3 linked regions of the Homo sapiens genome follow. The protein of the gene in region 2 interacts with the protein of the main gene of each other region in a pairwise test. Each region holds a gene or a part of one and is shown on either strand. Other genes may lie near its edges. The genes, in order: ZDHHC17, RAB39B and RUFY1.

The links.
Region 1: the proteins of RAB39B (region 2) and ZDHHC17 interact in binary tests that used the Homo sapiens proteins (3 or more experiments, as listed by UniProt).
Region 3: the proteins of RAB39B (region 2) and RUFY1 interact in binary tests that used the Homo sapiens proteins (3 or more experiments, as listed by UniProt).

Annotation. Positions count from the first base shown.
Region 1 is NC_000012.12:76,770,590-76,774,243, reverse strand, and holds part of ZDHHC17 (palmitoyltransferase ZDHHC17), read right to left. Parts: intron 1-3,654. UniProt on the Homo sapiens protein: Palmitoyltransferase that catalyzes the addition of palmitate onto various protein substrates and is involved in a variety of cellular processes.
Region 2 is NC_000023.11:155,257,581-155,261,491, reverse strand, and holds the end of RAB39B (ras-related protein Rab-39B), read left to right. Parts: intron 1-262; coding exon 263-689; 3' UTR 690-3,257; downstream 3,258-3,911. UniProt on the Homo sapiens protein: The small GTPases Rab are key regulators of intracellular membrane trafficking, from the formation of transport vesicles to their fusion with membranes.
Region 3 is NC_000005.10:179,553,508-179,557,161, reverse strand, and holds part of RUFY1 (RUN and FYVE domain-containing protein 1), read right to left. Parts: intron 1,509-3,654; exon of another isoform or gene 1,372-1,508; intron 1-1,371. UniProt on the Homo sapiens protein: Activating adapter involved in cargo sorting from early/recycling endosomes. Regulates retrieval of proteins from endosomes to the trans-Golgi network through interaction with the dynein-dynactin complex.

The sequences.
Region 1 (3,654 bases), on a different chromosome or scaffold from region 2:
GGGTCTCACTCTGTCATCCAGGCCGAAGTGCAGTGGCATGATCTCGGCTCACTGCAGCCTCAACCTCCTGGGTTCAAGCAATCCTCCTGCCTCAGCCTCCTAAGTAGCTGGGACTACAGGCATGCATCACCACACCCAGCTAATTCTTTTATTTTTTTGTAGAGACAGGGATCCCACTGCTTCCCAGGCTGGTCTGGAATTGCTAGGCTCAAGCGATCCTCCCACCTCAGCCTCCCAAAGTGCTGGGATTTACAGGCACAAGCCACCGCACTCAGCCAGAAGTATATTTTACCTTATTAATGTATACTAAGCAAAAGAATAGACTGAATAAAAGAAAATTTCAAAGAGAAGGACTTTTATGGAAATGTAGTTTTATTATTTCAAGTAAAAAGGTTACTAAAAGAAGTGGCCTTAGAGCAACTGCTAAAAATGAATCCTCCCCTAGTTCCTTTAGTAACAAGGAAGAACTGATAGTTAACTCTAATAAAGTTTTTCTACTATATTGTAAAAAATAAGTAAAAAATAAATTGTATTTTGACCTATTCATGTATACAGCAAAGTACATATAAGGATTATGGGCTTGGGAGTCAGAGTTTAGGTTCTAATATAAACTATGCCAACTTTCTAATGATGTGAACCTGAGTAAACTACTTCACCTCTCTTGAATCTGTTTCCTAATCTGTAAACAGCTCAACATATACACTTTGCAGAACTACTGTGAAAAGTAAATGAACAAAACTTGGAAGCAATAAGACGTCCTTCAGTGGGTGAATGGATTTGATACACCCAGAAAATAAAATATTATTCAGCACTAAAAAGAAACGAGCTATGAAGCCATGAAAAGACATGGAGGAACTTTAAATGAATATTACTAAGTCAAAGAAGCCAATCCAAAAGGCAACATACTGCATGATTCCAACTATAAGATACTCTGGAAAAAACAAAACTAAAGAGACAGTAAAAAAAATCAGGGATTGGTGGGAAGGACATATGAACAGGCAGAACAAAGATTTTTAAGGCCATGGAACTATTCTACATGACAACATAATGGCGGACACACATTACTCTTACAAGTGTTAAGAACCTCGCCGGGTGCAGTGGCTGACACCTGTAAGCCCAGTACTTTGAGACGTCGAGGCAGACAGATCACCTGAGGTCAGGAGTTCAAGACCAGCCTGGCCAACATGGTGAAATCCCGTCTCTACTAAAAATACAAAAAATGAGCAGGGCGTGGTGGCACGTGCTTGTAGAGGTACTCGGGAGGGAGGCTGAGGCAGGAGAATTGCTTGAACCCAGGAGGCGAAGTTGCAGTGAGCCAAGAATCACGCCATTGCACTCCAGCCTGGGCAACAAGAGCAAAACTCCATCCCTCTCCCAAAGAAACAAAAACAAGCGTTAAGGCCGGGCGCGGTGGCTCACGCCTGTAATCCCAGCACTTTGGGAGGCCGAGGCGGGTGGATCACGAGGTCAGGAGATTGAGACCATCCTGGGTAACATAGTGAAACCCTGTCTCTACTAAAAAAAAAAAAAAAAATACAAAAGTTAGCTGGGCATGGTGGCACGTGCTTGTAATCCCAGCTACTCAGGAGGCTGAGGCAGAAGAACTGCTTGAACCTGGGAGGCAGAGGTTGTAGTGAGCTGAGATTGTATCACTGCACTCCAGCCTGGCGACAAAGCTAGACTCCGTCTCAAAAAAAAAAAAAAAAAACAAGTGTTAAGAACCATAGAATACACAACACGAAGAGTGAGCCCTAATGTAAACTATGGCCTTTGGGTGATAATGATGCATCAATGTAGGTTCATCTACCATAACAAGTGTACCACGCTAGTGTAGAATGTCCATACTGAGGGAGGTTATGCATGTGTACAGGCAGGGAGCATATGGGAACTCTTCGTACTTTCTGCTCAATTTTGCTACCAATATAAAACTGCTCTTAAAAAATTAAGTCTGTTCAAAAAATTCAAAAACAAAACACAAATGAGACCATTTGTAACCACAGCTAGCTAGTGCCTAGCAAATCCAACTCTATCATCTCTATCATACTGTATTGTGCTATAAAAACAGGCAACCTGGATTACTACTTAACCTCTCTATACCTCTGTTTCCTCATTTGTAAAATAGGTATAAAAAGCTGTGAGGATTAAATGAATGAATATACATGCAAAATTGTTTAGGATAGTGCCTAGCTCATACTTATAATTTGCTGGCATCTATGTCCCGGCTACATGGAAGAAAGAAGCTGGTCTGCATTTGGAGAAAATGAAGCTGAAAGGGAGAGAGGAGGAGAGATAAGAGAGTTTTGGTGGCATTCTCAGCTCAGGTTCCAGTTGTGTTTGATTTCAACTGCATCCTTGCATCCTGAGTTTAGGTTATCTGAGACAGTAAATTCCCCTTTTTGCCCAACTATGTTTCAGACAAGATTGTTGACATCTGCAACAAGAGGATCCTTACACAACAAGAAACTTCTGTCTTCAACTCAAAGAACTTTTTTTTTTTTCATGAGAATAGGGATAGTTTTGGTAACCACCAGTTTTGTTCATACCTCATTAAATCCTTCAAAAATTAATGAGTATTCATAATTGAAAAATTATTCTTAAAAACTAAACAAGGGTAGGGTATACTAACATCTCAATCAGAAGTAATTTTTCACTTCATTTTTTTCTAGAATACAACAACTGATAAAAATGCAAGCCATCTGACATATATACACAAAAAATGTCTCAGGTACTGTTAATGTTATAATCTTCATATCCCTAACAGTATCACCGATAATCAGAAAGATGATCCTAGGACACTATAATGTTCTAATTTATCAAAGAAAGATTCTATTATGTTTAGTATGTATTAACCCTAGAAAATAATTTGGCAAATTTGCAACAGGAATTGAAACAAAAACAAAAAAGTATTGTTTAATTCTCTGTAACTCAGGATACTAAGTTCACAGTATCTCATTCACAGAAGGCTGAAGTTTCACTGTACTTTCAAATTAGCTGCCTGTGGCTCCACTTTAAGAAAATTTTAAAAGAAGATATTTTATCCTAGGTCTAAATAATTATTCCACTGGGTCAAATTTTATGTATTTTATAAATATAATATTGTCTTGAATCATTATTTTTCAAATTCCAAAATTAAAATATTTGATTTTACTCTTAAATTATCCATCTGTAATAAAATCTATTCATAAAATAATACTATAATCAGATAATGCGCTGAAAGAGAATTTTACATAACCTTAATAGTGAAACATCTTTTCGGATTATGTAATTGTTGTGGGTTCTGTTAAAAGCAAACTGCATTTTTTTTTTTTTTTTTTTTTGAGATGGAGTTTTGCTCATTGCCCAGGCAGGATGGCACGATCTTAGCTCACAACCTCTGCCTCCCAGGTTCAAGCGATTCTCCTGCCTCAGCCTCCCGAGTAGCTGGGATTACAGGCATGCACCCCCATGCCCGGCTAATTTTTTATTTTTAGTAGAGACGGGGTTTCTCCATGTTGGTCAGGCTGGTCTCGAACTCCCGACCTCAGGAGATCTGCCAGCCTCAGCCTCCCAAAGTGCCGCAATTACAGGCGTAAGCCACCAAGCCCGGCCAGCACACTGCATTTTAAGACACCTTAACTGTTCAATGCTGACTACCTTAACATACCCTTACAACCC
Region 2 (3,911 bases):
GCTGAATCCATGGAAAATGCCTAAAAGTTCATGAACATTCGTTTCTAGAAGATGCCCATCTCAAAGTTTGGCCCAATTGGAAACTCACATATTAGTAGTAGTATGGAATGCCATTTGTATTCCTTTGTTTTTTTAAAAAAAAAGAAAATCATTTTTATTAAAGGACTGTGTCACTAACCAGGAACACTTGAATATACTGAGTTCATTGACATGCAGAAGTTTGGGCACAGCCTTTACTCTTTACTTCTTTCTTGTGTTTTAGATCCATCACTCGCGCCTACTACAGGAACTCAGTAGGTGGTCTTCTCTTATTTGACATTACCAACCGCAGGTCCTTCCAGAATGTCCATGAGTGGTTAGAAGAGACCAAAGTACACGTTCAGCCCTACCAAATTGTATTTGTTCTGGTGGGTCACAAGTGTGACCTGGATACACAGAGGCAAGTGACTCGCCACGAGGCCGAGAAACTGGCTGCTGCATACGGCATGAAGTACATTGAAACGTCAGCCCGAGATGCCATTAATGTGGAGAAAGCCTTCACAGACCTGACAAGAGACATATATGAGCTGGTTAAAAGGGGGGAGATTACAATCCAGGAGGGCTGGGAAGGGGTGAAGAGTGGATTTGTACCAAATGTGGTTCACTCTTCAGAAGAGGTTGTCAAATCAGAGAGGAGATGTTTGTGCTAGTCAGTTCTTTTATTTCCAAAACATGCTCTCCTACTTGAACTGAAAAGTAAGAGAAATAAATAGAATCTTTGTGTAACTGATGAGAACTCAACCTCCATTTGGATACCAAGTGAGCCTCCCTCTCAGGGGGACTCTGACAGACTCGTGTGCGGGTGGATGGGGGTGCCTGAGTGCTGTGACCAAGGGACTGAATTGCTGACATGGGCCAGGCCAGGCACTGTTTTGTGGCCCATGCTAGGCAGTGGCTGCTCCATGAGCCCTTTGTGGACCACATGTTAAAGGCCTGGGGTTTAGGAAGCTAAGTCCCAGGAAAACATACCTACAGACAGGACAACTGTTCCTTGGTATTTGAGCTCACTTATAGGCCATGAACATAAAGAAATACATAAAGGGGAAAAAAGTTTCACAATGGGGACAATTAGCATAACTAAACAAAGATTATGAGCTCTACTTATTCCGTGAGAATACCCTGCACCAAAGGTGTTTGCTGGGTTTGGTTAAAAGGTACCAATTAGCTTTTAACAGCTTTCTGTAAAATGAGGAACACAGACCAAAAGGTCTGGTGTTCAAGTAAAAATGATGTGACTATGGAAAGGAAGGCAATCGACACAGTTATTAGCACATTTCAGAAAATGAACACCCTTGTGATAGAATTACCAGCTGTATGAAACAAATTGTCCCATGCAAATTACCCTATAACTAGGAAAGAGACACTATAACCCAAATGCCATACCCCCTTTTTCCTTTGACCATGCCTGGGGTTTCAATGCCTTGGCACCTGCAATCTGGAAGTAAACAGTCTGCTTGCTTCTTCAGGCACGTGACAGTGACAACACAGTGACTGCCTCTGAAAAGAGCCCTGAGGCAAACACTCTCTCCTGCTGAACAGGAGGCACTGTAACCCTTACAAACAGCTTACAGTTACTTGGGCTACTTATTTGATCATCATAACAGGCCTACGAGGTTTTTGCCCCATTTTACAGAATAGTAAACTAAGAGCCATGAAAATCACTTGGCCAGGGTCAAGGACTCGTGACTCCTAGCTCTTTTCACTGCATCATACTGCTGTCAGATGAATAAATGATTATGAATTTGTTTACTTGGGAAGAGATATGACTATAAATAAATGTTCTCTACATGTTAGGATATGTTTTCCTTATTGATTACAACTCAGCTATAATCCTGAGGGAACATGGGAAGGAATCAAAGGTAAAGCCCATTCAGGCATTATTGACAAGAGGGCTTTAAACAAGTGAATAATTGCACAACTAAAAAGACATTAGAACTGTGTGGGCTATAAGTGTTCTTATCACTGAGACACAGTGGATTTTTATTGAAAGGAACCACGTACAGCAATGCGGAGTGGGATAGGGATAAAATACCCACCCCAAAATGACCTTGGCCACCTGTCTGCCATATACGTACACTGAGTTCCTGTCTACCCAAGAGAGTCAGCCCTTAATTCTCAGGTGAACAAACAGCTAACTGCATCAGCAAATTGGAATGGCTGGCTTGAAGTTTCCATTATTTTCTTGAAGAGAGGTGATGCTTTAAATTACTTTTTGGATTGTAGCCAGTTCAGCTAGGCAAAAGCCATACTTTTCACAATTAAAAAAAAAAACTATTCTGACTAGAGTCAGGTTTCTCATATCCATTGTGATAGGAAGGCCTAAGAATGGCAAATCGCTTTGAGATATAATATTGAACTTCAGTATGAATGTGACCGAATCTGAAACTTTGGGAATTTGCTTTAGCCAGAATAAAGAAACCAAATCATGAAAATTATGGAAGACTATTCTGCCACCTGTGCCCCAAGTTGGATGAGCAAACCACTTTGGATCAGTTCACAGCATTAACTACAAGTGAACTGATCATCTTCTCTATATTCATTTCACAAGAGCTGGCTTAGGTGGGGTAATTAAATTGCCACCTTCGTGGTTGTAAAAGACAAACAAAACATGGCAAATTTCATTAACACAAAATTTCATCAACTGCTATACTGAATTATGTTTAGAAGATTCTGAAAGCAAGATTATCCAGTGGGTAAATGAGAGTCGACTGGATTCTGTCAGTTCAAAAAAGGAAAGAAACAAAACTTCCCTACAATTTTCTTCACTAAAATTTATTATATGTACAGTATTCCCACTCCTGGCATTTTCTGGCAGGTTTAAAAATATTCAGCATAAATCCAGCAGAGGTGGCTGAGCTTAATTGCTTAAATAAGTTCTAGAAAATTTAAAAATCATTTTAGTAGAATTCAGTACCATTGTCACTGCAATAAGTGGGTTTTAGAAAATAAGTGTGAAAAGAATCAGGTGTTAATATAATACTAAGGATAAAGCTTTAGAAGCTATTTTACTACATAGGTAAAGAAAAGATAAACTAACTTGTAACAAAGACCACAACTGCATGTTGGATTAGATTGTCTCATATTTCAGAATAAAATGTACTGTATACTTTTCCTCACTTTGTTGTGCACTGTAATGAAATGTGAAAAATGCTTTATTTAGCTGTATGTGAATGAAAATATGCTTGTATTTAGTAAAATGATTGATTATGTGACTGTGAGATTCCAAGTGTGTGTTATAGCTATTTCCAGAATCTGTTACTACAGCGTAGCAACTACTACCAAGGATATCAATAAGATGTGACATATACCATACACAATCGTATTCACCATTACCTTAAAGCCAGAAAGAGAATATAATTTTTGAAAGTTATCTGACCATCATATCAAAAGTCCCTGGGACCTCAATACTTCCTGGTGAGCATATGCCACTTTGAGAAAAGTTGGTTCTGTCAAGCCTAAATCTTCATCATGATGATTTTTAATCAAGAGTCTTAATTCTGTTGCCAAGTAGTTGATTACAACTATTATGTTCCCTGGAAAGTCTTCTTTTTTCCAGGCTAAGTTGCCTCAGCTTTTTCAAATCCTACTACGGCATGCTTTTTATGCCAGGATCACTTACAGTGTGGCACCAACATAAGAACACAATAGTTCAGCACATTTCCCAGGATTGATAGTACACATGAGGGTGGGGGGAGGGTTAAAAAAAAAAGGAAAGATAATGGATTCTGAGTCTGGGCATAAGTAGATAGGTAGCCTAAGTTCTGTACAGCTTTATCACATTTATATTAATTCTCTTATAGATTTAAGAGACGTGGCTCCAAAAGTCATTGCTGACAGCTCAACCTAGAGTCTTACTCTTTAGTCTTCCCTGG
Region 3 (3,654 bases), on a different chromosome or scaffold from region 2:
CCACCGTGCCTGGCTCACACTTGATAAGTCTTGGTAAAACTTTTGTTTTGGTAACTCCCAACAGTTGAGAAATTTTCTTAATATGATTAGGTTGCAGGTCAGGTAATTTTCAATTATTTGCTTTGAATGAAAATAAGGGAACAAAAAATAATTTTTGGCTTTAGATCAGTGTGATTTGGGGCATATAACTTGGAAAGAGTTCAAAGATGACCAACATTACTAAAACAAACAAACAAAAAACAGGACTAAAACTGATGCTGAATTCTATCACGCTTTAGCAGTAAATCATATATATTCATCTACAGATATATGCTAATGACAAAAACCAACACCATTCATCTCATTTAGAGATGCAATTCATTGGCTGGGCGTGGTGGCTCACGCCTGTAATCCCAGCACTTTGGGAGGCTGAGGCAGGCAGATCACCTGAGGTCAGGAGTTCGAGATCAGCCTGGCCAACATGGTAAAACCCGTCTCTACTAAAAATACAAAACTTAGCTGGGCGTGCTGGCGTGCACCTGTAGTCCCAGCTACTGGGGAGGCTGAGGTGGGAGGATCACTTGAACTCGGGAGGCGGAGGTTGCAGTGAGCCGAGATTGCGCCACTGCATTCCAGGCTGGGCAACAGAGTGAGACCCTTCTCAAAAAAAAAAAACGCAATTCAAGAAAAATTTATGTATAATTCTTTATAAAAATTATATTTATGTTCCTGTTACCAATGTAGCATTACTAATAAACTTAATGATAATTCACTCCAGAAGAAAAATTTTTATACACTTAGAGCTTCAGTCACAATAAAAATTTATTAAACTTTAACTTATTTACATACTTTTTGCTGAGACTTATAAGATGACCAATAACACTTTTAAAAACATACAAATCTATTACATTAATTCTATGGCAGAAGTGGAATGGAAATCCAAGTTCAATGAATAAAAGGGAAAATGTAAAATTTTCAAATATTAAATAACTTGCTATTTTAAAGATGGATGGTGGTAATTATCAATTCATTAAGGTATTTACATACCACTTGATACATTTCAAAAAACAATGTAACAGTTTTATTTTAAAAAGTCAATATTTACACTATGCCAGAAAATGAATTCTGAGCAACTTTAAAATATGATGAATAATCTTATACGTTAACTTTAAAAGTTAAGTTTTCGGCTGGGAGCAGTGTCTCATGCCTGTAATCCCAGCACTTTGGGAGGCCGAGGTGGGCAGATCACTTGAGGTGAGCAGGTCACTTGAGGTCAGGAGTTTGAGACCAGCCTGGCCAACATGGTGAAACCCTGTCTCTACTAAAAATCCAAAAAATTGAGAAACACCCAAGAATGATCAATTAAAAAAAAAAAAAAATCCAAAAAATTACCTGGGCGTGGTGGTGCATGCTTGTAATCCCAGCTGCTTGGGAGGCTGAGGCAGGAGAATCGCTTGAACCTGGGAGGCGGAGGTTGCCGTGACCCGAGATCACGCCATTGCACTCCAGCCTGGGTGACGAGCAAAACGCCGGCTCAAAAAAAAAAAAAAAAAAAAAAAAAGTTGGGAGTTTTCTTAGGGGGTTACATGAGCAAAAAATGTTAAGACCAGTGTTCCAGGCAATCAGCGCTGGGTGGTGCTGTCTCTGGAAGTGCTGCTGGCAGTGTTTTGCCATCTCATGCATCCCCTACTATGGGGTTACCTGTACCCATTAGCACTCAAGTTAGAGGCATGGAAAATTAAACCTGGAACGATCTTTTAGCGGTTCTATCTCTCAATTTTACTGGCTTTGTGACCTTGGCCAAACTATTCACATCTCTAAGCTTCATTAATAATAGTTCAACATGACACAGAGAATATCGTGAAGTTCTACACCTACTGAATTGCCAAATAAATTGCCAGGCCAGTATCAGACTCCTGGGCTCAAGCAATCCTCTCTCGTTGGCCTTTCAAAGTACTGGGATTACAGGCATGAGCCACCTGCACCCCGCCAGCATGTTAATTCTTAAAACACGCATGTTTGTTACTCATCCTTTAGGAAGCATTACTCTAAAAAGCAAGATACATTCCTTGTGGGTACATCCTATTGCTTGCGTGAAAACAGCCAGTGTTGAGAGAGGAAAGCACATGTGCTATGTGCGGAAACTCTCAAAGATACAATAGTACTGGGGAAAATTTCTGGGAAGGAGGATTTAGTATTTGTCCTTTTTTTTTTTTGAGACAGAATTTTGCTCGTCACCCAGGCTGGAGTGCAGTGGCGTGATCTTGGCTCACTGCAACTTCTGCCTCCTGGTTTCAAGCAATTTTCCTGCCTCAGCCTCCCGAGCAGCTGGGATTACAGGCGTGCGCCACCACGCCCATCTAATTTTTGTACTTTTAGTGGAGACGGGGTTTCACCATGTTGGCCAGGCTGGTCTCAAACTCCTGACCTCAAATGATCCGCCCGCCTCGGCCTCCCAAAGTGCTGGGATTACAGGCATGAGCCACCATGCCTGTCCGAATGTTCTTTTGTATGGTTTGATTTTTAAAAATCATGTTCGCTTATTACCTTAAAAAAAAATCCCCCAAAACCAAACAGGACACCTATGGACAATACAATCACATACCAGACCCCACATGGGAAAACTTTTCTTTTCTTTTTTTTTTTGAGACAAAGTTTTGCTCTTGTTGCCCTAGCTGAAGTGCAATGCGGCGATCTTGGCTCACAGCAACCTCCACCCCCCAGGTTCAAGAGATTCTCCTGCCTCAGCCTCCTGAATAGCTGGGATTACACGCCTACGCCACCATGCCTGGCTAATTTTGTATTTTTAGTAGAGACGGGGTTTCTCCATGTTGGTCAGGCTGGTCTCAAACTCCCAACATCAGGTGATTCACCCACCTCGGTCTTCCAAAGTGCTGGGATTACAGGCATGAGCCACTGCACCCGACCGGGACAACATTTTAAAACAAGTATTCAAAATATTCCGCAGCATTTCCTTTAGCTTCTACCATTGAAAAAATATCATCCAGCAAGAGTGCTGCTCACATTCAATCTCTGCTCCTAAACTGCTCCCTCTGAAAGTCCTGCCTGTCCTCATTGCTTGTGTAGGCAGATCAGTGGGGAAAGAGAATGAGTCAGCCTTGGGCCTGGCCCTGGCTGAAGTGGTGTCACTGTCTTTCTCCCATCCTGTTTTTCTTGTGTCGCTGCAGAGCGAGCCGCCCTTGGCCCATTTCCTTTCCCACCTCTGCTCCTGTCCTACCTGATGGCTTCAAATCCCGGTGACCTTTGGGACCAGCCTCATGGCTCTACCCAGCAGTTCCCCAAATTTCATCTCTTTGTAAGCCATGGTCACCATTTTGCTAGATTGAGTGGTAGTTATTAATACTTTCCTTAAATTGAGTTAATTATTATTTTTTGAGATAGTCTCGTTCTGTTGCCCAGGCTGGACTGCAGTGGAATGGTCTCGGCTCACTGCAAACTCCGCCTCTTATGTTCAAGCAATTCTCCTGCCTCAGCCTCCTGAGTAGCTGGGATTACAGGTGCGTACCACCAAGCCCGGCTAATTTTTGTACTTTTTTTTTTAGTAGAGATAGGGTTTCACCATGTTGGCCAGGTTGGTCTCGAACTCCTGACCTCAGGTGATCTGCCTGCCTCGGCCTCCCAAAATGCTGGGATTACAGGTGTGAGCCACCATGC